Linked DNA regions of Homo sapiens. The protein of the gene in region 1 purifies or fractionates together with the protein of each later gene. This does not show direct contact. Each region holds a gene or a part of one and is shown in the gene's direction. Other genes may lie near its edges. The genes, in order: FAM81B, PCNT and CDK5RAP2.

Region 1 (11,508 bases):
AGACAGTGAGGTGATTCCTCAAGGATCTAGAACTAGAAATACCATTTGATCCAGCAATCCCATTAATGGGTATATACCCAAAGGACTATAAATCATTCTACTATAAAGACACATGCACACGTATGTTTATTGCAGCACTGTTCACAATAGCAAAGACTTGGAACCAACCCAAATGCCCATCAATGATAGACTGGATAAAGAAAATGCCGCACATATACACCATGGAATACTATGCAGCCATAAAAAAGGATGAGTTCATGTCCCTTTGCAGGGACATGGATGAAGCTGGAAACCATCATTCTCAGCAAACTAACACAGGAACGGAAAACCAAACACCACATGTTCTCACTCACAAGTGGGAGTTGAACAATGAGAACACATGGACACAGGGAGGGGAACATCACACACTGGGGCCTGTTGGGGGTTGGGGGCTAGAGGAGGAATAGTATTAGGAGAAATACCTAATGTAGATGATGGGCTGATGGGTGCAGCAAACCACCATGGCACGTGTATACCTACGTAACAAACCTGCATGTTCTGCACGTGTATCCCAGGACTTAAAGTATAATTTAAAAAAAATACATTCCTGATTATTTTAGAGCTGTCTGATCCTAAAAAAGTTTCTAAAGGTCTTATAGAAGTATCTGTAAAGAAATGCTCTTCTAGCTAACTATAGATGTTATGGGGGGATGGGGGAGAATTGGGATAAGTGAGGAGAGGGGAAATGTAAAGCAAATTGAAAGCCTCCCTTTAAGCCAAGCTATATGTACAGAAACTGCCCTCAATTAAAAAAAAATTAGCAGCACTGCAAAAATTCACTTGTCATAGTTCCTGACCTGATTCAGCATTCTGGTTACCTAGATACAAATGTAAACAAAAGTGCCTCTCCAACTGCGACTGCAGAGGAACAGCCAGTTGAACCTGATGGCCCCCTTCCTGGCTCAGACAATAACCAAGAAAAGAAAGCAAGTACTTTTCAATATTCACATTAAAAGTAGAATACTTTGCTCAGCTTCTTTAAAGTTTAGAGTGCTTAGAGAGTTTAAGAAGTTCTGGAAGAATAGTTCTCCCACATTTCCTGTTTGTTCTGTCTTGGCAAAATGGCTGCTGAAAACACAAGCTGAAAAGAAAAATGACCTCAATTTACAATTTCATTAATTAGACTGATTTTTAATATATGGGGCTAAAATTCTTTTAAGTTGATCATTATGTATGTTTTATGATGATTCAAAAGGAACCATGATAAACTCAAGGTGCAGACTTTATCTTTATCTCTAACATGAAAACCGGTATAGCTAAATAGAATGTTTCCTTTATTAGAACTTGTCGTATCTTCTCCGTTAAAAAGAACATTTTTTAAAGCAGTGTTTTTAGACTTTTTTTGCACTTCTCTTAACACCTTGTAATTTACATAACAAGAGGCAGATGCAGTCACTTGTTACATAAAGCACTAGCACAATATCAAACATTGATTTTTGGTATGTATTATATAATAGGCTGTACCACATACTAGCTGTGGGACTTTGGAATGATTACTTAACCTCTGTTTCTTCTTCTGTAAAATGGGTGAATTAGGCTTATCATACAAAGTTATTGTGGGTTTGAATGAGTCACTTAAGTAAGTGCTTAGCAAGTAGGAAGGGCTACAGTATGATTATCATCATCATCTACATGATCTTGGGCAAGTCCCGTACTTCTCTGATCCTGAAGCTCCTCACCTATAAAAAATAGTCATCTTAATTTCTTTCCATAATAAGGGTTTCAGCTTCTTAAGGTAACTAATGTCATCCTTACACTAATGGGAAGGTAATGATATCCACTTTATAGGGCATTCATGTCAAATAAAATTATGTCATATACAAGAACGTATTTCATAGCCCATAAAACCAAAAAGCTATAACATTCAAAGCATTATTATGAAATGGATAAAACTGATATATGTAAAAAAATTCCCATAGTGGCCATCAAGTTGTTTGTGAGACAGTTTTTATATATAATAACATCCTAGCTTATAGGAATGAGGATAAAACAGAACTGACTCTTATGTTCAATTAGCAAAGATATAAAAATTTAAATACTGTCTTAGATACCTAAAAATTACATTTAAAAAATTGCACCAAAAGCCAACATCAGTGGCTTTTGTTCTAGGTAGCAAAATTACAAGCGAGAATTTTTATTCTGTATCTTTAACTTTTCTATACTTTTCCAAATATTCCTCCATTGTTATGCTTAACATTTGTCACTTAAATAGTGTGTGTTGTAGGTGTGTTTTTAAGAAGATGCTACTTGTGGTCTTTCAAGTAAGACTTAAAAATTAATAAAATAAAAATAAAACATAGATCTAATTGTTACACTTCAGAAGGAGAAAGGAGGACAAGTTAGTGCCCTTGGACACTGTATTCATCATACACTTTAATTCCACAAATACTTGGAGAGGACTACTCTCCAAACATATAAGGAGGGACCAACCGGTTGCTGAGGAAATGCCAAAAATAGATCCCCACACAGACCAGAGGGAGCAGTGGAAAGGTGAGGAGGAAAGAACTGGCAATGAAGTAGGTGAGGTCTCAGGACTCAGTACTGTTTCAGTGGGAAACAGGAGTGAAAACACTCTCCACGGCAGAAGGCATCAGGTCCTCTGACTTAGGAAAGTTTCCATAACGTGGCCACCTGAGTGCCCAGTGAATCAGTAGATCCATTCTCGAGGGGAAGACGTGGCTTAACAGCATTAGACCCATTGCAGACCCCATTCAGCAATGCGGGGAGGGTACAAGCTCTCTCCTGGGGGTTCACAGGCTCCCTCGTGAGCAGCCTCGAGCCTTTTCTGCCTGCCCACCACCAACAGGGCTGGGTCAGGAGAGACTTTGTCAGGCGTTCTTTACAGCATCCCTGAAAATGGACTTCACATTTTTTTAAGGTTTTTTGAAGGAGTGAGGTATCCAATTAAGTTTCTTAAAACTTAAGAAGTAGTAATTCCTTGGGCATTTGAAAAAGGAATGCTTTCTGTATGTGAGTCTTAACATATTCTGCCCACCATTATAGTACACAGTAACATAAAGCAAGAAAAAATATCCTAGGAATATATTTTGTTAAAGTTTTTAACTGAGGTGGAATACCACTCATATTCTCCATATTGAATCCAGTTCACCAATAGGCTATTAAAATTAGGATAAATCTGTCTTGTTTTTTTAAACTTAAAAGAACATTAGAATTTAAGGCATTTTCGGCTGGGCGCTGTGGCTCACGCCTGTAATCCCAGCACTTCGGGAGGCTGAGGCAGGCGGATCACAAGGTCAGGAGATCGAGACCATCCTGGCTAACATGGTAAAACCCCATCTCTACTAAAAATACAAAAAAAAATTTAGCCAGGCGTGGTGGCGGGCGCCTGTCGTCCCAGCTACGCAGGAGGCTGAGGCAGGAGACTGGTGTGAACCCGGGAGGCGGAGCTTGCAGTGAGTGGAGATTGCGCCACTGCACTCCAGCCTGGGCGACAGAGCGAGACCCCGTCTCAAAAAAAAAAAAAAAAAAAGAATTTAAGGCATTTTTGAGATATGAAAAACAGTGAGTACATTGGGTATCTTCTTTCCTGTCATAAAAATGCTGCAAATTATCAACTTTCATGAAAATAGAACTTTCTAGTAGTACCATTTTATTGAATTAGAAGTTGCCAGTTAAGTGTACATATGGCCAGCTATACTTAATGTTGGTAAATCATGTGTATGACTGCTCTGGCTATAATAATCTGACATCCAGGTACTTGGATAGGCTAGTTTTCTAGTTCGGGGCTTTGTGTTTGAAAATTAGCTGTTTCTCCTTAGAAATCAGCATGTCAGGAATCATCCACTCTGTGAAGACTTCTTTAGTAACTCAGTCAATAATCATTAGATATTTCATTTTAAAATTATCTAAGAATAATCTATGGCTTTGACTTTTCCAAAAAGGTTTTCTTGACTGTGATACCAAATCTATGAAATACAGCTCTCTAGTATCTCCACAGAACTTAATTTTGTTTTTAGTCATTAGCAATACAAAGGGGACATGTGTAAGATTAACTGAGCTGATTATCTGGTCTATGGTATACATTTTGTTTAAAATTAAAACTCTTTAAAGATAAACTGCATAGAAGTAATCTGTAAAGAAGCAGATGATATATTCTGAATCTGTAACCTTTGTTTTAGGTAAGATTATCTCCAGCCAAAATGTCAACCAAGAATTCTACAGATCTAGTTGAATATGTTGACAAGTAAGTGTGTAAATTACAACTAGTTTTAACTATTAACTGCATTTATTGTGACAAATCTCACACGCAAAAAAGAAAAAATCCTGTGTTTAATTATTCAGTCAGAGATGAATGTACCTGAATGAAACCTTTAAGTTCTCTGCATTCAGAAGAGATTAAATCATGTCAGAAAGACAAACCTGATCCTGTTCCTTTCTGATTGACAGAACAAGCAGATTTAACTACCTTTTCTTTAAATGACCTCCATAGGTTCCTGTAGATTTATGTGAAAAGCAATACAACATATTGCATATTGCAACAATATCAGATATAGCTAACTATTGACTTCAAAATAAACCAAGTAAAGCTGTTAACATTTCATGATAAAAACTCAGGAAATTTTGAGATATATTTCACTAATCACTAGAAGATGTTGTTTCTGCTATTTACAGTGCCATACCTGGAGCTCCCCCAGGAAAGGTGTACCACAGAGGGACAACTCCAGGCACTTGGAAATAGAGTAACACACTGTTAACACATGCACATTGTCCAAAATACCCAAGGATGCCAGTGATGAAGGTGGCATTGCAAAGGCAATGCATATTAATTTGAGTTGTTTTCTATTCCATATGTCAAAGCAGGATTTGGTCTAATGCTGTCATTCATGTTTTCAGGGCACTGGGGATTTAGTGTCAGTCCTTCTACTACTTTGCTGTGTAACACCAGTCAGTTCCATAATGTCTCTGGGCTTTAGTTTTTTCATTTGAAAAACAAAGAGGTTGGACTAGAAACTACTGCAGCTTTAAAATAATTCTGATTTTAATAATCATGACCACAGAAGAAAAAAATAGCCAAATGAATGAAATGAGTTCATGTGAAGAGAAAAATCTAAATACACCTTGAACTTCGATTTTTTAAAAATTATCTTTAACAATTAAGATGATAAGATTTCTTCACTAATTTTTACTGCATTTTTTTCACAAGAATTCCCCTGTCCCTTGGCCAGTTAAATTTAATACATTCCAAATAGTTCAATCACAGTATGTTAGCGTTAGCCCCTTTTTTCATGTTCCACATAACTTGTATTTGTTTATATGACTATGAGTCTATGATTTAGAAAAAAATAAAACTAAGCATGGGAAAAATATTTTTAAATGTTTAAAAAATGCAATATTTGGACAGATGACTTTTCTTCTGAGTTAAGGACAATGAATGTAGTATGCACAAAAATAATTATTATAAATAAATGTATTAGCTAACCTTATCTTCCAAGGAGAAAAGGGAAACTTGTCCCCACCTGACTCTCTACATGACAAATGGAAAATAAAAATCATTCTTCTGATCCGTCAAATTCTATTACAAACCTGTGTGGATTTCTTTAGCTCAAGCTGGTGATGTACATCCCAGGAGATGAGAAAATAAATTCCTGGAAAATGGTAACAAACTTAAGCAGCAGAAGATAAACTTTTTGGATTTCTTTGGCTTTCAGATAAATTAAAATGAAGACAAAGAGGAAGAAATAGTCTATAATGCAAAGCAAAAGCATGATAAAGATTACTTCACTCCAACATTTATTTCTACCTTAATCTCTCCCTTACCCCTTCTCTTACTATCTAAACCATATATCTGGAACTTTCTATTTATGATTTCACATTGTTAATTGTCTTTTGGTCTCTCTCTTCGCATCTCTCAGAACAGGCTGCAAACTCCCTAAAGGAAGGCACTCTATGGCCTTATGATTTTTGATATCCCTCCAGTAGCCTATCATGATGTACTGAATACACTTGATGAACTGTAGTTGACAGATTTAATGGAAAGTAATGGTAGAACAATTGAATTGTTATAGCTTTGCTTAAATCAGCTGATTAACTGGAAAAGCAAAATGGCATTTGGGCATTTCAGTAATAAGTGCAGACATTTTGAATTGACATATTCAATCCAATAAAATAAAAATAAAGAACAATGGTTTTTAAAATAACTTCACTGGCCAGGCACAGTGGCTCACATCTATAATCCCAGCACTTTGGGAGGCAGAGGTGGGCAGATCACCTGATGTCAGGAGTTGAAGACCAGCCTAGCCAACATGGTGAAACCCCATCTCTACTAAATATACAAAAATTAGCCGGGCATGGTGGCGTGCACCTGTAATCCCAGCTACTCGAGAGGCTGAGGCAGGAGAATCACTTGAACCCGGGAGGTGGAGGTTGCAGTGAATGGAGAGTGTACCACTGCACTCCTGCCTGGGTCACAGAGTGAAACTCAATCTCTAAATAAATAAATAAATAAATAAATAAATAAATAAAAAACTTCAGCCTTCAACTCATAGTTTTCATTGGGTGACAACAAATGGATTGACATGCAAACAGAGTACTTAAGTAAAAGTCATTATCAACTCATTAAATGGCCTGAGTTTATATTACAGGTTTTCAGAGGTTTGGCCTTAAAACCTATATGGGTATATTTACAGGTAATACTATGAGCAAAGAATAACAACTCAAAAAGTAAAAATCCAGTCCCTCAGGGAGCTATCTAATAATGCGTTTGGAGCCATTCTAGCAGGAAGGAGAGAAATGAATTATTAGATAGCTGGCCGGGGTAGGCCTCATTAAGAATCTGACATTTGAGAAAAGACCAGGAAGTGAGGAATTTGTCCATATGGACATCTAGGGGAAGAGCAAAGTTTCGAAGGCAGGAATATTCTTACGGTGTAGCAGGAACAGAAAGGGGGCAAGGATGGCTAGGGTGAAAAGGAGGGAAATACAAATTGGAACTATGATAGCATCTGGGATTCTATTTGAAAGTCTCTGGAGAAAATGAATCCTGAGTTTCTGCTGCCCATGAGGCAAATTCCAACTTTCCTGAACAAAAAGGAGGCCAAGGAACTGAGGATTTTTACTGAGTTTTCCAGGCTGGGCTATAGCCAATATATAACTCAGGAATTCTCTCAAGAGTACATTTTGTGAAGATGAGGGTCTGGCTGACAGCCAAAGAATGATATTTAAAATCTGGATACATAAAACTTTCAGCAAGTCAAATGGGCAAAATAATAAATGATTAATGACTTCCCCTCATGAGTAGAATATGGAATTCAGGGTCTGAAAGTATTCATTTTCAAGGTTTTTCTTAGCACCATGGCAGACACTTTATTATTCCGTGATGCATTGCTTTTGTTACTACATGGTGAAGAGAGATATTTCACATTACAATGCATGAGAAAGGAAGACAAAACTCTGTTGGTTGAACTTTCTATGGATAGATCATGTTAGGTTGGATGGTGCTACTATCAGCCACAGTGCAGTCTTTTGGTCTTTCTCTTTCTTCTTTTCATGCCCCCCCCCACCCACCTGTGATGGGCAAGGCTCTGCTGAGAGTGGGCACAGTCACAGGGATTGGGCATTACCCATAGGGACCCCCAATTAGTAAGGGAAGGGGCTGCCCAAATGATGATCAGTCCCTCCTAAGAGGCTGTCTGGATTCTTGTCACATTTAAGACCTTCTGCTCAAGCGTGAGAACTCCACTGAGGTCAGGCTGATGCTGATCTCAGTTCTCTAGAGCACAGAGGGAGCCCCCACCAACCTCTGGGCCTCTGAGAAGACCCTTAGGACTCCGAGGAGAGATGGGAGCCAGGCAGGAAAGGTGACTTGGTGAAAAATTACATGATGTTGGCAGCAAGTTACATATGAAGAAGCAGAGGGAAAGACACACCTTTCTCCTCTGAGAAAAGTGCAAATGTAACAGGAAGAGCCACTAACTGGCCTAAGCAAAGCTGCTGTGATGTAGGAGAAAGAGGAGAGGCTAACTAAAATGTTTCGCTGCTGAGTGACTCATAGCCTCCATGCCTCAGTTTCCTCCTAAGTAGAGACAAATTTTACTCATGCCACAGGGTAGTGGTGGGAATGCAATGAAAATGATACATTGACTATAAGCACTAAATAGAAATAAGATAGTGTTATAATAAATTCCTTACATTTCTCCTGGGCTAGGAGCTCCCTACCACAAACTGCGTGGCTTTAAACAATAGAAATGTATTACCTCACAATTCTGGAGGTTGGAGGTCTGAAATCAAAGTGCCAGCAGGACTGGTTCCTTCTGAGGGCTCCAAGGGGAACCTGTTCCTTGTCTCCTGCCTAGCTTTTGGTGACTTTTGGGAGTCCCTGGCACTCCTTGGCTTGTAGATGTGTCAGTCCAATCTCTGCCTCCATCTTTACATGGTATCTCCCTGTGTTTCTGTCTTCCTACAGCCACCTTCACATACATACATACATACATACATACATACATACACACACACACACACATACATACATACAGGCATCTTCACATCGACACCAGCCATGCTGGATTAGGGGCCCACTCTACTCCAGTAGGACCTCACCTTAACTAATTATATCTGCAAGACCCAATTTCCAAATAAGGTCACATACTGAGGTATTAAGCTTTAAGACTTCACTGTTTCTTTTGGGGGGACACAATTCAACCCATAACAATATTTAATAATTATAAATTATTGTAAGAACACATATATACAACATTGTACAAGACATATTTACAAGACATTGCAGAGTATTTCAGGTACACATCCTTTAACTTGATCTCGTCAGCCAGGTGGGAGGGTCAGGAGTCCCTCTCTCCACAGAACAGAGAGGGAGCCCTCTTCCGGGCAACCTCAGAGAGGTTGAAGTTAGCTTGTGACAGAGATAGAACTTGAACCCAAGTCTTCTGACTCCAAGTACAGCGTTCTTTCCCCTGGAGACTCACATTAAACACTCCCCACCCCCACCCCCAAAGACCAAAGTAATATGGGAAGGTATCTCAAGAGGGCCACAAATGCTACAGGAACTCCCAACATCATCAAAACAATTTGCTACTGCAGTTTGCATATGCTTCACCTGTAAGTATGACCCAGACATCCACCCTGCCCTCACTGATACAGGGACTCTGTTTGGAACCTTTGTCAACCTTGATGCCTCCACATGAAGGAAAACCAATCGTACCAGGCACATCACTCATTTTGCAATCTTACTAAAAATTTTGCTGAACATGAGGAGTCTGCCTTATAGAGCGCATCACTTTTCACTGGAAAAGAATCACAACCAGTTCTTTCTCCAGTCTCTTCTGGACCGTGCCACTATATGGAGTTCTTTTTGGGCCCTTCCTGATGCTCTGTGCTGGCCCAGCCCTGTTGGCCTGGTGTACTTCCTTCTGCACTGGGCCCACCAGAACTCAAATTGCCTGCCTCACCCCCCAGAGCATTCAGCCCTACCTAAAACTCAGCAGTGGAAGTCTCTCCAGCTACAAACATCCACTTGCCAGGGTGGTTATAAACAAGCAACACAGAAACTATAGAAAATGTTTTTTCTATTTCATCACTCCCCACACACACTCATAGATTATTTTTGTGAGGCATCAAAATATTCTCTGAGATTTCACTTCAGGTTTTTTTTTTGTAGGACTCTCTGCACTCAGACCGTAACTAGTCATATATTAGATCTCATAAAAATGTAGAAATCTTTCTTCGGTATGCCTTTTTGTGTTCTAGAAAAAGGTTTAAATTTTCAAGTTTGATTCTCTGAGTATTACAGGTTGCCAAAATGGTTACCAGAATCTCCCCAGTAAATTTAGGGCTCTATTCACAAGAACAGAACAGGCAGGGAAGTGAGAGGCTCCATGTACCGGCTGATCTGCCAGCTACAGCACAGCTGGTGTAAGTCACACCGAATTACAGAAAAATAGAACTCAGAGTTTGTGGAAAATCTGTTCAGATTCAGTTGTCAGCTACATAATCAATGATCTATGTGAAGCCCAAATATCTCTCTGAAAAGGCCCCCTAGGAATTTTTCCTCCTGTGGTTGGTGACTCCATCTGCACTAGTCTGGAATATCCAGTTATTTCTTTCCTTTCATAGTTAAATTTAGATCTAGGTCCCACTGACATACATAACATACTAAGAAAGCAGTGAGGTTCTTAAATTTACATCTTACTACTAGGGAAAGCCCTCAGTTTTTATCCCTTAGGAATACCTAATGATTTGAATAATGGCCTCGTCAGGAATCTCTCTTAGAAAATTGAGACATGCTCATGTGTTTGTTCTTCCATGGTTGATTTAGAAAGGTCAATTGGAAAACAATATTCTCTGTCCTTGTGGCAATGCAAATAGGGAAAAAATATAAGCTGTCTGTTGATCTTCAGGAACCATGTAAATAAAACCAAACAGAGCCATCATTTGGTGCTTCATTAAACCTTAAGAATTAGCAATAATAATAAGACTACAGTTAATAGTAAATCCCAGGCCTGAAAAGGAATTTCAAAAAGGAAAGCTCTCCACTTAAACATAAAATAAATTTTAAAAATAATCTTTAAAAATTTAGGAGAAGAAATAACTACAGTCCAGCATTTGCATCCCACTTAATGTCTCCATGGTTGCAGGCAAATAGCTTTGCATAGCAGTAGGTGATACCCTCCTAAAAGTCTTCCTTCGATGGGCCAAATAGCCACAGCATTGAAATCAGCCCTGACAGACAAGACCACAGACCTGCTGGCTTGGGTCTGCCCTCGCATTGCTCTCTCTGGATATAATCTTGACATTAGCCAATAGCACCTCACCCGCAAGAGTGAGGCCCTGGGACCCTCTTAACCTCAGACATACAGGTGTGTGGCATTGGTTTCACCACCCTCTCTACTGCATGCATCTCACTTATTGTCTCAGAACTTACAACCACACAGCAAAATAGGCCTTGTTGGCCCTGTTTACAGATGAAGCAATTAGAACACTCGGTTGGTAAGTGGTGGAGCCTGTGTTCTACCCTCAGTCTACCTTGCTTTCCAACCTGCCAAGCTGCTTCTGGATGTCTACAGAACTTGAGAGCTCATATTCCATAGTTCACTACTTTAGCACTTCATTATATATCCTGCCTTATATTATTCGCTGATTCACATGACCAGTCTTGAACAAATCAGTGGTGTTTAGTCTTTAGGATACATTAGAATCACCTATGCGCTTGCTTAAAATGCATATTCTTACTCTCCCCGCCTACCCTAAAATTTTGATTCAGTAGGTTTGTGTTGGAGTGGAGTAATCTGTATTTTAACAGCTTCCCTCCCTCACCCTCCCCTGTGATACCAATTCAAGTATAAGAAATACTGAATTAACTTAAGTTCCTTGAGGAACAGAGCCATTATATGTAAATATGTAGTATTACAGGTATGGACTAGAGTAAATGTGTGTATGGACTAGAGTAAATATTGTATATGAACTAGAGTAAATATTTAGTAAGTACTTAATGTATCT
Region 2 (11,508 bases), on another chromosome or scaffold:
TGCACGCCGGGGCGGGGTGTGGCTGCAGGGCGGGGCTACAGGGGCGTGGCGTGGCTGCACGGAGGGGGTGGGGCGCGGCAGGCGCTGGACCCCAGGCTGGATCTTCCAGTGGCTCCCGCGTCCTCCGGGACCGGGTGGCCTGGGGCGGGCGGCCGGTATTCGGGTGGCTGCTTGGTCTAGGGCCAGTTTCCTGCGCGGCCGGGGCCGGGGGCGTGGCGCGGGTGGCCTGCAGCGCCTCCCCAGGGTGCGCCTTCGCCTCGTCCGTCGGAGATGCTTTCCCCGCGCGTTTCTCGCGGCGTTGCAGTCCTTACTGTGTGAAAGGCCCCCGCGGCGCTCCCGGCCGCCGTCTTCTTCCCGCGCCCTTGGGCTCGCGTCCTGCCCGTCCGGGCCTGGCGTACGCTGCCGGGAACCCACGCGGCGCTGGCGCCGGGCGCCTTCAAGGGACGCGCTCCCGTCTTTCTCCCGCCCCGGGTTTCTCCGTGAAAAAGCGCTCGGTTTGATGGCCACTGTCCTAGGTTTCGTGGGAATAAAGCGCGCAGAGCCCATGACTCGGGGGCAGGAGAAAGGGAGTCCCGAAAGCGCGAGGCGGAACCGCGGGAGCAGGCCGGCCTCTGCGAGGTGCGCGCCGCTCCCCCCCAGGATGTTCTGGCTGGGGTGCTGGGGAAGAGCGGGGCTCCCGGGCACGGCGGACAGGGGACGCGGGGCTAGGCCGGGGAAGGGCTGAGGCGGGCAGGAGGGGAAGGGGAGCCCGGAGCCTGCAGGGAGCTGCGAACAGGAGCAGAGCTCCCAGGAGGGTGGAGGGGGGAGGGAGGGACAAGACGCCGCCTGTAGGGCGACGCAGGCCGCAGACCAGGTCTGTGCTATATCCCGACATGGATAGGTGTGGTGGAGGAGGACATGAAAATAAACGACATGAGGTTGACTTTGAAGGAAATATTTCCTTGAGAGACCATTTTCTTGTGTAAATGGCCTTGTGTAATTTTTCTGGGTCCATGAGCTTGTGTACTTGTGTTATCATTTACACAAATGTGTGTTCCATGCGTTTGTTTTTGTGGCCACAGTTGTCTTTTGAGGGAACAGATGTCTCCCCGTGAAAGGCTGATGTGGGATCGATCGCATACCTCTTGAGTAAGACGTTAGCGGGAGATGAGGCTCGCACATAGTCTCAAACTCTCGGATTTGAGGACTGAGCAGAGCTAGGCTGTGCCTTCTGATGGGCGATGCTCTGTGGATGTCCCTGGTGCTTTGGTGAGCTGTGTCATGAAAAATAGAACATCTGATTCCATAAAGGAAGATGTGAGATTGACCTGGCTTAATTAATTTTTTGCTATTTCTGTATCTTGTCTCAGAATCTATGGCTAGGAAGTTTTGGCTGGGCTATATATTTCTTCAGTTGGGGGAAAATTGGGGCAAGAAGGGAGAGATTTAGCTTTTATATCATTTTAAAACTTAAATATGCCTTGATTAAGCTATCAATCTTTTATACAAATTTTTTTTAAAGTTTTATTTTTCTGTAAACTGCCAAGGGCTAGGAAAGCTATTCTGCCAATCAGCCGTATGGTTTTCTTTACCAGGCATAATTAGCAGTCCTCATTGTTAGACCCCTTGGATATAGATATTGATGAAGGCAGTGTTTGTGGAGAGCCATCTGTTGGCCAGGTGTGGCAGAGTAGACTGGGTCAGCCCTCGGGCCTCATGGTCCCCACCAGTCTGTTGACTTTGTGGTTCTGTTATTTTTTTCTCACTTACCTTTGCCTTTACTACTTATCTACATTTTTGCGCAGCTTGCTCACTTCCGACAGAGAAAAACAAAAGGTGACAGTTCGCATTCGGAGAAAAAGACGGCGAAGAGGAAGGGCTCGGCTGTCGATGCGTCTGTCCAGGAGGAGAGTCCGGTAACCAAGGAGGACAGCGCACTCTGTGGAGGAGGGGACATTTGCAAAAGCACATCATGTGACGACACCCCTGATGGGGCAGGAGGGGCCTTTGCAGCTCAGGTAGATTTGCTCAATGTTGTATTTGAACATTTCGCTTATCTTCTAGTGATTTCTAGTGTGATTTACTAAAGATGGTCTTTGGTCTGTTTTTGCCTTTCAAAAGTGAGGAAAGAGGGTGTTATTTTAGTTTATAAAAAGTGAGGGCCGGGTGCAGTGGCTTACGCCTGTAATCCCCGCACTTTGGGAGGCCGAGGCAGGCGGATCACCTGAGGTCAGGAGTTCCAGACCAGCCTGGCCAACATGGAGAAACCCTGTCTATACTAAAAATACAAAAATTAGCCGGACATCTGGCGCACACCTGTAATCCCAGCTACTCGGGAGGTTGAGGGAGGAGAATAGCTTCAACTTGTGAGGCAGAGGTTGCATTGAGCCGAGATCACGCCAATGCACTCCAGACTGGGTGACAGAGCGAGACTCTCTCTCAAAAAAAAAAAAACAGTGAGTAAATTTTTATGGTTTTATTCTTTTTATTTTATTTTTTATTTTTTTGAGATGGATTCTCGCTCTGTCTCCCAGGCTGGAGTGCAGTGGCGCGATCTCGGCTCACTGCAAGCTCCGCCTCCCGGGTTCATGCCATTCTCCTGCCTCAGCCTCCCAAGTAGCTGGGACTACAGGCGCCCGCCACCACGCCCGGCTAGTTTTTGTATTTTTAATAGAGGTGGGGTTTCACTGTGTTAGCCAGGATGGTCTCAATCTCCTGACCTCGTGATCTGCCCGCCTCGGCCTCCCAAAGTGCTGGGATTATAGGCATGAGCCACCGTGCCCGGCCTATGGTTTTATTCTTAATAAATTTGGGTTTTCTTTTTCTTTTTTTTTCTTTTGTTTGTTCCAGACAGTGTTTTGCTGTGTTGCCCAGCCTGGAGTGCAGTGGTGTGATCACAGGTCACTGCAGCCTCAAACCCCTGGGCTCAAGTGATCCTCCCTCCTCAGCCTCTTAAAGTGTTGGGATTATAGGCATGAGCCACTGCGCCTGGCCCTGTTTTATCTTTATTATGTAATTTTGAGAAGTTTTGGATTAACTACTTGAAGACAAGTGTCAGTTGTTTGCTTTGTAATGGAAGACTGGGAGTTCTTCGTGTGTGGTCGTGTCAGCCCCTTTGATGGGTGTTTCTTGGGACATTTAAAACATAATATTCCTTCACATAGTTGTAAATGCACCTGCTTGTCACATTTGTCTTTTACCTTTTTACTAAACGTGAGATGAAGAGGGAAGGGGTGAAGGTGTTGCAGACATGGTGTGTTGCTGGAGGAGACTGGGTCTGCTGCTTGAGGCCTTGTGAGCTGCAGGGGCACCCCCATGGGCAGGTGTGGCAGGTGAGTGCACACTGAGTCCTGAAGGGGCTGGCCTTCCGGGCTCCTTGGGGGCCTACAAACCTGCCTGGAGGCGGGCTGTCCTTGGGCCTTTTGTATGAATTATGAACGAGGGCCTTAGGTGTTGAGTGTCCCTGCTGCTGCAGCAGAATGGGTGCAGGCTTTGATGTTTGCTAGGATTTGCTGGAAAACTGGTGGCCAAAGGCAGAATCTGGCTCAAGGTCATAATGTATGTATCCTGCTTTACTTAAAAAATTGAGTTGTTGGCAACAGTTAAAATTTGTGTTATTCTACCTACAAATCCTGAATTTTGCTTTTTATCTCTTGAGTGTTTTTGGTTGTTGGGTTGGTGTGTTTTTTTTTTTTTTCCCGTTTTCTTTTTAAGATACAGTCTCTCTGTTGCCCAGGCTGGAGCGCAGTGACGCGAACTCTGCTCAGTGCAACCTCTGCCTCCCAGGCTGAAGCGATCTTCCTGCCTCAGGCTCCCAAAGTGCCAGGATTACAGGATTTCTGCCACCTTGCTGGGCAGAAAGTTACTTTTGATATATTCTGGTTGCATATGTTTTTTGGTTTTTTTTGAAATGGAGTCTCACTCTTTTGCCCAGGCTGGAGTGCAGTGGTGCAGTCCTGGCTCACTGTAACCTCTGCCTCCTGGGTTCAAGCGATTTTCCTGCGTCAGCCTCCCGTGTAGCTGGGATTGCAGGCGCCTGCCACCAAACCCAGCTAATTTTTGTATTTTTAGTAGAGACAGGGTTTCACCATGTTGGTCAGGCTGGTCTTCAACTCCTGACCTCAAGCAATCCACCCACCTTGGCCTCCCAAAGTGCTGGGATTACAGGCGTGAGCCACTGCACCCGGCCCTCTGGTTGCACATACTTTTTTTTTTTCTTTAAGGCGAAGTCTCACTCTGTCATCCAGGCTGGAGTGCAGCGGCACGCCCTCTGCTTCCTGCAACCTCTGCCTCCCGATTTCAAGCGTTTCTCCTGCATCAGCCTCCCGAGTAGCTGGGATTACAAGTGGGCACCACCATGGCCGGCTAATTTTTGTATTTGTTTGGTTGAGATGGGGTTTCACCACATTGGCCAGGCTGGTCTCGAACTCCTGACCTCGTGATCCACCTGCCTCGGCCTCCCAAAGTGTGGGGATTACAGGCGTGAGCCACTGTGCCTGGCCTGCATAGACGTTTTAAAAGTAGTAAGCTGATAAATATATGTGGGAATCTCAGGATCCTATCAGAAAACCATTCCAAACTTAGCACATTTTGTGGTAAATTGTATTTGGAGACTGATGGGTCGTTAACATTAGAAGGCATGGTATAGACTCCTGATTAAACACTCATACTTTGCTGTTTCATCAGGTAGAGACTCTCTTAGTTTCTAACTCTGCTATTTGATGCATGCCTTCATTCAGGAAGATGATCTGATGAAAAGCATTTTGATTTTTGTTTTCAAAACCAGAAGGGCATATACCAGAAAATTAACAGTGGTGGTCAGAAAGGAATAGAGTTGTTGGTTTTTTCGTTGTTATGGTTTTTGGTATTTCCTACAATAAACACATTAGGTTACTTATATAACATTTTTTTTCATTTTAGAATTAACTATACCACTAATAAAACATGTATTTTGGACATCTTAAAGCAATCTATAAATAACAGGCCCATTACTGGTCCCCTTGACTTAGAGATGCACACGCACACTCACTGCACTTGCTGCATTTTGTGTCACCTCCTCGTGACCACAGTGGACAGGACACTTCACCCTCAAGCGTGGGGTGGTGTGGCAGATGTGAGGAGAGGTCTGCTTTCACAAAACTTGGTGAAACAATGGCAAGATGGCCAAGGTAAAGCATTCTGTTACTTATAACTGTTGCTGTGAGTAGTAACTTAACTGTTTAAAGCAGTATTTTAAAAACCAAAAGCTGGTAAAATGTAAGGATACTTTCTCTAGGAAAAGTATGTGCTCCTGCAGCCAGGATTCTTCATGGAATGAAGGCATGGCAGGGCCTGACTGATTTTCATCTCACATCGTCATCCTGAACTCCTCTGCACAGTTACAGCTTGACATCAGCAGAGACATACCTCCTCTTCCTGTCCATTGGCTCTAAAATGGTGGGCAAAGGTCAGGTACCAGTCAGCTTTTTCCACAGAATTCCTGACATTTTAATAAGCTAAACATGCAGTCATCAGGTATTAACCCCTATTGGATCTTGGACATCAGCTTTTTCCCCCTTTTTTTTGAGATAGGGTCTTGTTTTCTTGACCAGGCTGGAGTGCAGTGGCGCAATCATGGCTCATTCCAGCCTTGACCTCCTGGCCTCAAGTGACCCTCCTGCCTCAGCCTCCCTAGTACCTGGGACTACAGGCATGTGCCACCATACCTGGCTAACTTAAAAAAAAATTTGTAGAGACAGTGTTACACTGTGTTGTCAGGGCTGGTCTCAAACTCCTGTGCTCAAGTAATTCTCCCACCTCGGCCTCCCAAAGTGCTGGAATTATAGGTGTGAGCCATCCCACCTGGCTAAAATTTATTTTCTTTATACATGTATAGGTAAACTAAGTAGTATGTGTAGAATAGAGCCATTGTCTTTCTGCTGTACACTAAGTTAGGAATCAAATTTCTTAAGCCATTTTGTCAATTATGTATATAAAAACCATTGGTGCTTTAGAAGCAGATATTTCATTAACTTTTTTCTGATTATATCATTGTACATCATCAGTTCAGTCTAAAAAGGAGTTTTTTTCATATGTATTATAAAATATTTCATGATATTTGAGTTTAGTATGCCTTTAATCCAGTTGTAGATGTTAAAATAGGAGTAATTTTGTGTTCAAAATAATGATCTTCTGAAAAGTGAAATTCTAGGAAAGAGTCCACTGTTTAAAGCTAGCAGCTGGTGGCCGTGTGGCCGAATAATGTCCCAGGCCAGGGCACTCCCCTCTCAGATGGTTGGTCATGCTGCGTCGGAGATCAGGAATCCTCAAGGAACCTTTATGTTATAGTTGTACCAGTGCTTTAAACATAATGAAAGGTGCATTTGTTTTATTTTACCCATCTATAAATTGTGAGAGGTTTGGCTATGGAGAGTCTAGTGAGCTTATTGAACAGCATAAGAAGATAAGTGTGTGTGTTTGTGTGTGTGTGAGAGTGTGTGTATGTGTGTGTGAGGGGGAGGGAGAAGTTATTGTGCTTTCCAACATATAATAAATTGCTTACTTTGATCACTAACTGTTAGGTAAATACTGATGATTTCTAGCATAAGTCTTTTTTCTTTTTTTTGGAGACAGGTCCTCCCTCTGGCGCCCAGGCTGGAGTGCAGTGGCCCAATCAGCTTACTTCAGCCTTGACCTCCCTGACTCAGGTGATCCTCCCACCTCGGCCTCCCAAAGTGCTGGGATTACAGGCATAAGCCGCTGTGCCCAGCTGATATAAGACATATTTTTAACCAACTTTAAGATCTTAGTTTTTTTTCAGGATGGTTATAAGCGAAGGTAGAATTGCAGAAAGACTTTGTGGTAAATATTCAGGATTCGGCTCTGTTGCCTTACAATTTGTTAAGTGCATGATGGAAAAATAGTTGAAACAATGCAACAGCTGTCTCAGTTCTGAAAGTTAACTCAGAAATGGCAGAAAGCAAGGTCAGGCATGGTGGCTCCGAGCACTTTGGGAGGCCAACGTGGGAGGATGGTTGAAACTCTGTCTCTATGAAAAATATAAAAATTAGCTGGGCATGACAGTGCACACGTGTAGTCCCAGTTACTCAGGAGGCTGAGTTGGGAGGATCACCTGCGCCCAGGAGTTTGAGGCTACAGTGAGCTATGGTGGCACCACTGCACGCCAGCCTGGGCGGCAGAGCAAGGCCTTGTCTCAAAAAAAAAAAAATCATAAAAATAAAGCAATGGTAGAAAGCAGAATTTGACCTTTCAGTTACAGATGAGGAACAAAGTGAGGAGAGGCCATTTTTTGGTAAAAGAACCATCTGGCGGGACGCATTGGCTCATGCCTGTAATCCCAGCACTTTGGGAGGCCAAGGCAGGAAGATCACCTGAGGTCAGGAGTTCGAGACCAGCCTGGCCAACGTGGTGAAACCCCATCTCTACTAAAAATACAAAAATTAGCCGGGTCTCATGGCAGGCGCCTGTAATCCCAGGTACTCGGGAGGCTGAGGCAGGAGAATCACTTGAACCCGGGAGGCAGAGGTTGCACTGAGCCGAGATCGCGCCATTGCACTCCAGCCTGGAGGACAAGAGCGAGACTTTATCTCCAAAAAAAAGAGAACCATCCAAAAATTGCTCAGAGGTCAAGAATTTCAGAAGAAAATACAAAAACTTTGGCTGAAGAAGATTTAACTAGTGCTATAGAAGGCTTAAGAAGTGTGGTTCTAGCACTTTTCCAACTCATATTTGTATCAAATACCAGGAAAAATAGTTATCACCATTTATCATCTAGATTTCTGGGCCGTTTTACTGTTTTGTCATTTTAAGTTGTTTTACACGTAATTTACAGAAGTAAGAATAAAGCAATAATTTAAAACAACTTTATAAGAAATTTGATCCAACCTCTTTGTATCAAGTAAGTTTTGACACACAAACATTAGAAGTGTCCTCTTAAGGAAGTGGATGGTCCAGGTTCCTTTGAAGTGTGATCATTCATGTGAGCGGGCAGCTGATTGAGACTACTGTGTCCCCTTTTCGTCCCTCACTTCCTCTTGATTCTGAGAAGATTGATCTAGGGTATTGTCAAATGAAGACTTGTCTGAGATTTTATTTTCACGTCAGTTTTGCCATCATCATTGGCCATGGGTGCTCTCTCTCTGCATTCATCTTGTGACTCATCTAATGATCCCGAAAAGTCGACACTGTCATGTTTCTTTGCTATTTTGGGAAGAAATTGAAATGTTCTTAGTGAATCATCTTGTTAAAGCAAGCTAATCTGGGCACTGTGGCTCATGCCTGTATTGCCAGCATTTTGGGATGCTGAGGTGGGAGGATTGCTTGAGCCCAGGATTTTGAGGCCAGCTTTGGAACATAATGAACAGAGACCCTGTCTCTACAAAAAAATAAAAAATAAGCTGGGCACAGTGGCGCATGCCAGTAGTTCCAGCTACTCAGGTGGCTGAGGCAGGAGGATCACTTGAGCCCAGGAGGTTAAGGTTGCAGTGAGCTGGGATTGCACCACTGCACGCCAGCCTGGGTGACAGAGCAAGACCTTGTCTCAAAAAATTAATTAAATTTCTTTTTTAAAGTAGAATTCATGGCCGGGCGCAGTGACTCACACCTGTAATCCCAGCACTTTGGGAGGCCGAGTTGGGCAGATCACAAGGTCAAGAGATTGAGACCATCCTGGTCAACATGGTGAAACCCCGATTCTACTAAAAATACAAAAATTAGCTGGGCATGGTGGCACGCGCCTGTAGTCCCAGCTACTCAGGAGGCTGAGGCAGGAGAATGGCGTGAACCCGGGAGGCAGAGCTTACAGTGAGCTGAGATTGTGCCACTGCACTCCAGCCTGGGTGACAGAGTGAGACTTCGTCTCAAAAAAGACAAAAAAGAAAAAAAAAATTAGCCGGGCGTGGTGGCATGCGCCTGTAGTCCCAGCTACTCGGGAGGCTGAGGCAGGAGAATTGTTTGAACCCGGAGGCGGAGGTTGCAGTGAGCCGAGGTCATGCCACCAGCCTGGGCGACGGAGTGAAACTTTGTCTCAAAAAAAAAAAAAAATTACAGGCTGGGCACGGTTACTCACACCTGTAATCCCAGCACTTGGGGAGGCCGAGGCGGGTGGATCACCTGAGGTCAGGAGTTCAAGACCAGTCTGGCCAACATGGTGAAACCCCCGGGAGGTTGAGACAGGAGAATCACTTGAACCCAGGAGGTGGAGGTTTCAGTGAGCCGAGTTCGTGCAACTGCATTGCAGCCTGGCAACAGAGCAAGACTCCGTCTCAAAAAAAAAAAAAAAAGTAGAATTCATTAAGAAGAGGGGCAGGAACATCATTAGGGAAATTACTTGCATTATAAAAATGTTTAGAGCTGGCCAGGTGTGGTGGCTCATGCCTGTAATCCCAGCACTTTGGGAGGCCAAGGCGGGCGGATCACGAGGTCAGGAGATCAAGACCATCTTGGCTAACATGGTGAAACCCTGTCTCTACTAAAAATACAAAAATTAGCTGGGCGTGGTGGCGGGCACCCATAGTCCCAGCTACTAGGGAGGCTGAGGCAGGGGAATGGCGTGAACCCAGGAGGCGGAGATTGCAGTGAGCTGAGATTGTGCCACTGCACTCCAGCCTGGGCGACAGAGCAAGACTCCGTCTCAAAAAAAAAAAAAAAAATGTTTAGAGCTTGGGAATTGTTAATGCGGAAGGTGCACGTTCTGAACAGGTGGAAGTGAGCTCTACTTGTTAAATGAAGTCAGCACAGGCCTGCAGATAGAGGAGCTGGGAAGGGCCTGAGGCTGCAGCCCTAGACCTTGCTTTAAATGCTTCTTTCTGGTCCTCCCCTTCTTAGCCGGAGGACTGTGATGGAGAGAAGAGAGAGGACTTGGAACAGCTGCAGCAGAAGCAAGTCAATGACCATCCTCCAGAGCAGTGTGGGATGTTCACAGTCAGTGACCACCCACCAGAACAGCATGGGATGTTCACAGTCGGTGACCACCCACCAGAACAGCGTGGGATGTTCACAGTCAGTGACCACCCACCAGAACAGCATGGGATGTTCACAGTCAGTGACCACCCACCAGAACAGCGTGGGATGTTCACAATCAGTGACCACCAACCGGAACAGCGTGGGATGTTCACAGTCAGTGACCACACACCAGAACAGCGTGGGATCTTCACAATCAGTGACCACCCAGCAGAACAGCGTGGGATGTTCACAAAGGTATTCTTTAAGTTCTCTGTTAAGGTGTATTCTTTGTCAAAAGATTTCTTTATGTTGTAGAAATCCAAACCAGTGAGAGGACCTTCCATCTCTGCAGGGCCTCTCTTTAGAAGTGGAAACTGGAAGCATAGAGAGCTGGAGGCAGAGGCTCACCCTGTAGGCCCCACGTGCTGCCGCCTGCACGTTCTTAGTGTTGCCTGTGAATGGGAAGCCTCTCTTCATACCCTTCTCCCTGAGCTCAAATCTGCCTCCCTTGTGATCTTCCTTTTTTGTTTTTCCCATGGGACATTGAAGAGAAGCCACCCTTCATAAGTTTGAGGAATGTCATGAATTCCCTTTATTCTAGTTGCCCTTGTCGATTGACTCACCTGTCTGTTCAGCCTGTTTCTTAGGCCTGGTACCTCGTTTCTCACATCATCAGTTTGTGACTGGAAGTCCTGTGCCAGTTGAGAGCCTGGCAGGGCAGGGAGGCTGTGGTCAGTCTGCATGTCCCTGGTTTCTGCCACGTTCCTGGTGGGATGAATTCCATACGTGTTGAGTTGATTACCTTTATTTTATTGACATGTTTTTTGTTAGCATGTGGAGGAAAACATTAAGTTTGGAATTGACTACTTTTGAAGTGTTATGTTAAAAGCATATATTTTAGGCTGGGCACGGTGGCTCACGCCTGTAATCCCAGCACTTTGGGAGGCCGAGGTGGGCGGATCACGAGGTCAGGAATTTTAGACCAGCCTGGCCAATATGGTGAAACCCCTCTCTACTAAAAATACAAAATTAGCTGGGTGCCACTGCACTTCAGCCTGGGAGACAGACCGAGATTCCATCTCACAAAAAAAAAAGCCTCTATTTTAGCCATTTGATTCTAGCTAGACTCAGTTCACACTGCTTTAGGCAAGTTTGGTTGTTTTTTGGTTTTTGGGGTTTTTTTTTTTTTTTTAAATAGAGACGGAGTCTTGCTCTATTGCCCAGGCTGGTGGTGCGATCTTGGCTTACTGTAACCTCCGCCTCCTGGGTTCAAGCGATTCTCCTGCCTCAGCCTCCCAAGTAGCTGTGATTATAAGCACCCACCACCATGCCTGGCTAATTATTGTATTTTTAGTAGAGACAGGGTTTCCTCATGTTGGTCAGGCTGGTGCTGACCTCAAGTGATCTGCTCGTCTCAGCCTCCTGAAGTGTTGGGATTACAGGCGTAAGCCACTGCACTTGGCCGGCAAATTGTTTGTTTTTTGAGATGGAGTTTTGCTCTTGCCCAGGCTGGAGTGCAGTGGCGCGATCTCGGCTCACTGCAACCTCCGCCTCCCAGGTTCAAGTGGTTCTTCTGCCTCAGCCTCC
Region 3 (8,512 bases), on another chromosome or scaffold:
CTGTCTCTATGATTTTTTTTTTTTTTTTTTGAGACAGGGTCTCGCTTTGTTGCCCAGGCTGGAGTGCAGTGGAGTGATCTTGGCTCACTGCAACCTCCGCCTCCAGAGTTCAAGCAATTCTCATGGTTCAGCCACTTAGTGGCCGGGACTACAGGCATGCCCCACTACGCCTGGCTAATTTTTGTATTTTTGGTAGAGACGGGGTTTCACCAGGTTGACCAGGCTGGTCTTGAACTCCTGGCCTCAAGTGTTGTGCCTGCCTCGGCCTCCCAGAGTGCTGGGATTATAGGTATGTGCCATTGCGCCCAGCCTGTCTCTATGATTTTGACTACTCTAAGTGTCGCGTATAAGTAGAATCATACACTATTTGTCCTTCTGTGACTGGTTTATTTAACTTAGCATTATGTCCTCAAGGTTCATGCGTGTTGTAGTATGTGTCAGAATTTCTTTCCTTTTTAAGGCTTTTGTTTTTAATTTTTTTTAGAGACAGTCTTGCTCTGTTACCCATGCTGGTCTTAAATTCCTGGGCTCAAGTGATCCTCCTGCTTCTGCCTTGCTAAGAGCTGGGATTACAGACACAAGCCACTGTGCCTGCCCTTCACTGATATTTTTATTGTCCTTTTGATTATAGCCATCCTTTGGGTGTGACATGGTAGGTATCTCATTGTGGTCTTTTTTTTTTTGTCGTTGAGACAGAGTCTCACTCCCTTGCCCAGGCTGGAGTGCAGTGGCGCAATTTCGGCTCACCGCAACCTCTGCCTCGTGGGTTCAAGCGGTTCTGGTGCCTCAGCCTCCCAAGTAGCTGGGACTACAGGCACGTGCCACCATGCTCGGCTAATTTTTATATTTTTAGTAGAGACGGGGTTTCACCATGTTGGCCAGGCTGGTGTCGAACTCTTGACCTCAGGTGATCTGCCCGCCTTGGCCTCCCAAAGTGCTGGGTTACAGGAGTGAGCCACCCCGCCTGGCCCTCATTGTGGTATTGATTACATGTTAATGGCTACTGATGTGTTGAGCATCTTTCCATGTGCCTTTTAGCCATTTGTTCACTTTCTTTGGAGAAATGTGTATTCAAATCCATCGTCCATTTAAAAAACGTGAATATATTTTGACCCAGCAATTCCACTTCTTGTCATCTATTCTAGAGAAATCCTCATACTTGTGCATATGGGACCTTATAAGGACATTCATATGACATTGCATGTAAAAGAAAAACTTGGAAACAAATTGAATTATCATCAGTAGGGGATTGGGTAAATACACATCCTTTCAAAAGTATCTTTCAGACTGTGGCCCGTTGGTAGCTCATGAAATTCAATTTAGTAGGTTGCAACCAGGATTTAGAAAAATAGAACAGAATAGAAAACATTTCAAGGATGAAGGGTAATAATATTTCTTCTGTGGCTCATGGTCAGTAAGGTTTGAAGAACACTGCTGTAGAAAGCTTTGTAGGAGTTGAAAACTTTGAGGCATATCTATTTGTACTGTCATGAAAACATCATGAGGGCATATTAAGTAGAAGAAGGATGTTGTAGCATGATGTATACTGTTTGATTGCATGTGTTTTTAAGCAGCAAAATTGAAACTATCTATGTAAAAACACATAAAAAGTTCTGGAAGTTATAGGTCTTTTTGAAAACAGTGATTACCTCCTAGGCGGGTTCTAGATGGGAGCGAGGAGGAGCCAAGGAGAACTTTAGGCTTATCTGTATTTTTTTAAATTTATGTATTTTTCTCTAATTAAGAATAAAATAGAATGAAAAAGGGGTTGTTAAAAGACAAAAGTGAGTTTGTTTGTGTAATCGTTGTCAGAATGTGATATCTGGTCTCATCCATGACTCTCATGAAACAATTTGTCAAGGAGACATAAGACCCCTTGGGTCTTATGGTTTGAGTGGACAATTGTTGCTGGCATATGTAGGCATAGAAAGAGGTCAGTCCTTTTCGGTAGCAATAGAGCAAGATAGGAGGATGAGGTGGTGGAGCTCAGGTGAAGGTCCATTCAGTCACTCAAAAATTATCCACAAACAGTTGCTACAGCTGGGCGCGGTGGCTCACGCCTGTAATCCTAGCACTTTGGGAGGCTGAGGCGGTCAGGTCACCTGAGCTCAGGAGTTCAAGACCAGCCTGGCCAACGTGGTGAATCTCCATCTCTACTAAAAGTACAAAAAATTAGCCGGGCGTGGTGGTGCATGCCTGTAATCCTAGCTACTTGGGAGGCTGAGGCACGAGAATCGCTTGAATATGGAAGGTGGAGGTTGCAATGAGCTGAGATCACGCCACTGCACTCCAGCCTGGGCGATAGAGTGAGAGTCTCCAAAAAACCAAAACAAAACAAAACAGTCGTTATGATGGCTGTGCCCTGTGCTGAGTGATGGAAATTTTATGCCTCAGTCCATTCGGCCCTTAACCACCACCACACCCCTGCCACCCCCAACCTCCGGGAAGGCGTCAGGGGTACCAGGGTGGTGTAGGTTCACAGCAGGGGGTTTAAAGTCAGGCTGGCTTGGAGTTTCCAGCCTATTAACTTTTTGGTCTTTGTTTCCTCATTAAAAAAAAAAAAAAAAAAGGCAACATTAAAAAGTACCACCAGCCGCAGAAAGACTATAGTGAGGATTAAACCTGATTTTAGTTTCAAACATTCAGTTTAGAAAATGGACTTTAATCCTGTGGTGAGGATGAAAGGGAAGGCTGCCTGTCCTGTGCTGAGTGTGGTGCTTGTGCAGCATGGGTGCCCCATACAAGGGCAGGTTTCTTAGATTGTGCTTTATTTTGCACGTGAGGAAACTGGTACTCCACCATGTGTCACATTTATATAGGAGCTTTGGGCAGTCCACACACAGGCTAGCAAGTGGAAAAGACACTGGGATCCTGGATTTTGGGCTTGGCTTTGCCACTAACTTTTGTGATTTTGAGTAAATAAGTTCCTAACCCATTTCTGGGTTTCAGTCTTCTCATCTGTGGAATAAGATCATATCTGAGCCCTTTTGTTTTGCTTACATTGTCATTTCTCGTGAGTATCCCTGAGGCCCCAGCCTTAATTATAAGGCTACAAGTGAATGATTAGAATGGAAAGAGGGAGCTGCTTGTGGCTGGAGGTGTAGTTGGAACTGACTGGAGGGTGCAGATGACAGATTCATAGCATTTTAAAAGTGGGTAGGTAAAGCCCGAGTGGAAATTTGGCAGGATCCAAGCAAAAATTTCTGCATTACATAGTGGTTTTGTCTAAGAGTTGGGATGTCAGATGTCATTTTTCAAACTTCAGTGTTTGCCTGTAGGAAGCTTGTCTAAGACCAGAATCTTTGGCTTTGTTTGCTAGGTACTTTTCAGCTGTGATTGATCTTGGCTTGAGTTATTCATGGGCAGTTTTAGCCAGTGGGAGTTAATGTAATGGCTCTGGTACCCGGAGAGAACCCCAGATTGAGAATGCAGGACCAGACCTTAGGCTGAGCTTGGCCAATAACCTGGTGTATGTGACCTTGGGCTTCTGGACCACCATCTGCAAAAGGTGATGGTTGAACTTGATTTTAGTTTTTAAAATTCAGTTTAGAAAATTGACTTTGTCCTTTTAGTGATGTTTATTGGAGGAAATTGAGAATTATATAACATTAAAAAGGAAGAAAACCTCTCATTTCCCTACTAATGATGATTTTTAATATTTCAGTATATTTCCTTTGTCTTGTTATATATCTGTAGCCCACCTATTTCCAAAATGGACTTGAGGTGACTTCAGTATTTATGTACTGTATATATTTGTTTTCATAATTGAGGACATATTCTGTTTACGTTTTTTCATTTACCTTTACAGGGGACACTTTTTTTTTTAAATTTTTTTTTTTTTTGAGATGGAGTCTCACTCTATCACCCAGGCTTGAGTGCAGTGGCATGATCTCAGCTCACTTCAACCTCTGCCTCCTGGGTTCAAGTGATTCTCCTGCCTCAGCCTCTCAAGTAGCTAGGACTACAGGCACCTGCCACAATGCCCGGCTAATTTTTGTATTTTTATTAGAGATGGGGTTTTACCATGTTGGCCAGGCTGGTCTCGAACTCCTGATCTCAAGTGATGCACCAGCCTTGGCCTCCCAAAATACTGGGATTATAGGCATGAGTCACTGCACCCAGCCCGGACACATTTTTTTGTGATCATTTTCTTAATGTTGGAATTTTATGATATTTCCAATTTTTTGCCTGTTTTTGATCTTGAAGGTACATTCCAACTCCAAAGTTTGGTGGTCAGGCAAAATTATCCTAGGAGCACAATGAATTTGGATTTAGAGGCATGGAAAGAGCAAATTGCCAAGAAGTCAAGCTGTTTCCATCAACTCCTACTTTACAGTGTGGGATAGGGAAGTATTCGTGGGAGTTGGACATAAAAGACCTGGCTTCTGGACCTGGCTCTCCACAGAACCGCCATGTGACCCTGGCTAGGACAGTAAAATTGTCTGGGCCTTGGGGCCTTCCTTTGAAAAATGTGTGCACCCTCAGGGAATTAGGCAATTCTAATGATGGTAAATCTTTTATAAATTGTAAAGCACTGTAGGTTTCAAGGCGACATGATATTTTGCTCCCATTTGTGGAGTACCCACAAGGTACCTTGCAATATCTTGTTTAATTGCCAGTTACTCTGTGAGGTAGCTGCTGTACTCATTTTACAGCTAAAGAAAGTGAGGCTCAGAGAGATACATGGCAGAGCTTAGAATAGATCAGGGTAGTGTCTTTTGTGTCACACCACACCTCCTATTATGGGTTAGTTTTCTGTCAGTGTCTCCAGATCCTCACTGAATTTATTTATGTAATTCAACCAAGACAACTTCTTGGATCAGTGAATTTTGCATTGTTTGACATTCTTAAAACATCTAAATTGGTGTCTGATTCCCAGAGGTGGTGATAGGCATATTAGTAGTCATAATGATAATAGTAACAACAACAATAGTTGCCGTTTACTGAATACTTACTATGTGCTTTGTGTTTATATACATGAACGAATTTAATTTTTACAGGGAGGGCATGGTATCCTCATGTACCAGATTAAGAGGGTGAGACTCAGAAACATAAGTATCTTGTACTTGTCACAGTGCCTCTGCCACTAGCACATATTTGGCACACAGAACATTTGATGTATGACTGAATGAATGATGTTACTGAAGGTCACTCAGCTATCAAGTGTTGGAGCTGGAACTCAGCCCCAAAGCCTGAGTTCTTAACCTCTGTGCTTCATGCCACATAGGTAGCCCAGCTGTGTGCATCCCTCCTGGCCATGGGATGATTGTCATGTGCAGTCCAGACCGTCTTAACAGTCTCTGTTGTTCAAACATTAGCTCATCTCTTATCTCATGTGTTCTCTCCTAGTGGCCTTGTTCCCAGTGTACCAGATGACCTGGATGGCATCAACCCCAATGCTGGGTTGGGAAATGGTCGTAAGTACACAAAACCAGGCATTCTCTTGAGTAAAGAACAAGGAAAGTAGACATTGGACTGTGAGCATCTTGAGCTTTCATATCTCTGGGGCCCAGAGGCTTCCCTGAACTGGCACACCGTAGGTGCTCAGTATTTTTTGTATGTATTGATTTGCTTTCCACCTCCTTTCATAAACACTGGACTAGAGGAATTGTTGTCCTTTTGGCCATACTTCATGAGTTTCATTTGTTGCTACTAAAGCTATAGGGATTCAGTGAGCGTTTGCTGAACTGAACAACTGCACGGAGGCTGGACATTGAATTGGCAGCTAGGCCAGTGGCTGGAGGCCCAGGAGAGCTGCCATCTGGACTGTAGCGTGCCAAGGCCTTCCTGGCAGGCTGCTGGATCCTGTTTGCCGGCTGAGGCCCCGCATTCCTACACGGGCCTGCCCTTTGGAGACAAATAGCTGGTTAGACCACAGGAGACGGCTCTGAGTAAATAAGTAGCGTACTGTGTTTAAGCTGGATTATGAGGAGACTTTGCAGTTTGGGTCTAGCTAAGCATTCTTCATAATTTTTATTTCTGAAAAAAGTGAATGCTTAAGCGTCTCTGTGGGTAGTGCTAGTTTTTGCAAAATATCTCTAAGATATTTTGACTTGTTCTTTTTTTTCTCTTCTCCACAGTGCTGAGATATGTGCAAGAGGAGGGAGATTTTGGAGCAGACAGGAAAAGAGTCCCACGGTTTATTTCTGGAAAATCCCTTAACTTACAGGGCACCTTCATGTTTTCCTGAGGAACCTATTAACTTTTACTTTATTTTTACTTTTTATTTTTTTGAGACATGGTCTTGTCCTGTCACCCAGGCTGGGAGTGCAGAGGTGCGATCACGCACACTGCAGCCTTGACCTCTTGGACTCAAGCAATTCTCCATCTCAGTCTCCCTAGTATCTGGGACTACAGGCGTGTGCCACGACACCTGGCTAATTTTTGTATTTTTTGCAGGACGGTTTTGCCATGTTGCCCAGTCTGGTCTCGAATTCCTGGACTCAAGTGATCCACCTGCCTCAGCTTCCCGAAGTGCTGGGATTACAGGCATGAGCCACTGCACTCATTGGCAACTTTTACTTTAAATGCAAAATCCAACAAGTCTGATTTGAGATGGAGTCTCGCTCTGTTGCCCAGGCTGGAGTGCAGTGGTGTGATCTCGGCTCACTGCAACCTCCGCCTCGTGGGTTCAAGCAATTCTTCTGCCTCAGCCTCCCGAGTAGCTGGGATTACAGGCACGTGCCACCACACCCAGCTAATTTTTGTATTTTTAGTAGAGACAGAGTTCACCATGTTGGCCAGGCTGGTCTCGAACTTCTGACCTCAGGTGATCCACCCGCCGCAGCCTCCCAAAGTGCTGGGTTTACAGGCATGAGCCACTGTGCCTGGCCAGCCTATTTCTTAATTTAGCCGATAGTATACATTTGCTTCATGCCAGACTCTGGGCTCAGTGCTAAAATTCAACCTCAAATGTGGTTACTGTTAAGCTGAGAAGACAGACAAACCCTTATGAGAATTTGTATGGTCAGTGTCAGGAGCAAAGATGTATCAAGTGCTGTGAGAGGGGATTAAAGGGAGATTTCCTCTGGTGTGGAGGTGGGTCAGGCTAGAGTTTCCCAAGAAATTGATATTGGAGCGGAGACCTGAATAAGTCAGATGTAGGTAAGGAAAAAGGAGGGGATGAGCATCCCAGACACAGGTGAGGGCATGGCCCGTTTGAGGAACAGGAAAACAAACTAGCGTGCCCTTCACAGTCTGCCCTGCCCACTCCTTAGCCTCTTTTCTGCTAAGTGGTTTCCGAACACCATGCCCACTCCCACCTCTGTGCTTTTGCCTGGGCTGTCTCTCCTTCCTTTTGTTTCTCATCTGCCCGGTGCCTCCTTGCTCCCTCTTTAAGACTCAGCTCAAAGCTCACCACCCTTTTTGGCTCTCCCCAGGCTGACTAAGGTGTACTTTCCTCTCTCAACATTGTGTATTTCACTTCATCTCATCTCATTTCATTTATTCCTGTTGGCTACTTTTAAAGTATCGGAATCAGACTAGTTCTCACCCACCTATACTCCTTCCATCCTACTCCAACCCACCATGATCTGCGGCCTAGATTATCCCAATATTCTCCTAACTGGTTTCCCTGTTTCTCTCCTAAGCCCCTTACAGTCTGTTCTCAGAAAGGCAGCCAGAGGGAGCCTGTAGAAACCTAAGTCGAATCATCTTACTCCTTAGCTGCAAACCTTCCAGCAGCTCCTCAGAGTCCTTAGAAGAGCCTAAAAACCGTATACAGTCTGTCCCTGTTTACCTCTCTCACCTCCAGTCCTGCTATCCCCCTTTGTTTATTGAGCTCCAGCCTATTGGCCTCTTGACTGTTCCCCAGACCCACAGGGGACCGTGCTTCCACCTCAGGCTTCTCCCTGAATGTGGAGAATTCTCCCCCAGGTAACTGGTCCTTTCTCTTCAAGTCTGCCCAGATGTCACCTTCTCATTGAGACCTTCCTTAACCACCTTACCTAAAATGGCAGTCCTCACCCCATGCCTCCTATTTCCTATCCTTATCTACTTTATTTTTCTCCATAGCATTTATCACCTTTTAACATATTATGCAGTTGTCCTTTTGTTTTGTTTATTGTGTTTCCTCCCTCTAGACTATCGGCTGCATTTGTTTGTTTCCTGATGTTTCCACATCTAGAAAGGGGCCTAGCAGAAAGTGGATTCTCAGTGCATATATTTTGAAAGAATGAACTTATTCACTCAGCACACATTTACTGAACACCTACAAAGTGCCACGGGCTTTATTCAGCCTGATAACAGTTAGTTTAGATCTCCATCCTGCTCACTCGATAGGGAACCTCTTGGATGCAGGATTAGTGTCTCCTTCACCATTGTTTCCTCAGCATGCAGGATGGGGCTTGGCACCGAGTAGGTGTGTAATACATGTTTGTTCAGTTAAAGATGCTGCGGAGAGATTTGGGTATTGCCATAGTCTTTAAAACAGGTCAGCAGTTTCCGGTCCACTGCTTGCTTTTGAAAATAAACTTTTATTGGAACACAACCACTTTGTTTATGGATTGTTTGT

Evidence for each region.
Region 2: the proteins of FAM81B (region 1) and PCNT purify together in Homo sapiens (affinity purification with mass spectrometry; 2 studies listed by BioGRID and IntAct, with this or other methods). This does not show direct contact.
Region 3: the proteins of FAM81B (region 1) and CDK5RAP2 purify together in Homo sapiens (affinity purification with mass spectrometry; 2 studies listed by BioGRID and IntAct, with this or other methods). This does not show direct contact.

Annotation. Positions count from the first base shown.
Region 1 is NC_000005.10:95,391,933-95,403,440, forward strand, and holds part of FAM81B (protein FAM81B), read left to right. Parts: intron 1-861; coding exon 862-965; intron 966-4,178; coding exon 4,179-4,243; intron 4,244-11,508.
Region 2 is NC_000021.9:46,324,593-46,336,100, forward strand, and holds part of PCNT (pericentrin), read left to right. Parts: intron 1-74; exon of another isoform or gene 75-618; intron 619-1,695; coding exon of another isoform or gene 1,696-1,784; coding exon 1,785-1,997; intron 1,998-9,804; coding exon 9,805-10,176; intron 10,177-11,508. Other genes in the region: uncharacterized LOC128092249, read left to right, coding at 1,696-1,899. UniProt on the Homo sapiens protein: Integral component of the filamentous matrix of the centrosome involved in the initial establishment of organized microtubule arrays in both mitosis and meiosis. Plays a role, together with DISC1, in the microtubule network formation.
Region 3 is NC_000009.12:120,568,879-120,577,390, reverse strand, and holds part of CDK5RAP2 (CDK5 regulatory subunit-associated protein 2), read left to right. Parts: intron 1-5,349; coding exon 5,350-5,417; intron 5,418-8,512. UniProt on the Homo sapiens protein: Potential regulator of CDK5 activity via its interaction with CDK5R1. Negative regulator of centriole disengagement (licensing) which maintains centriole engagement and cohesion. Involved in regulation of mitotic spindle orientation.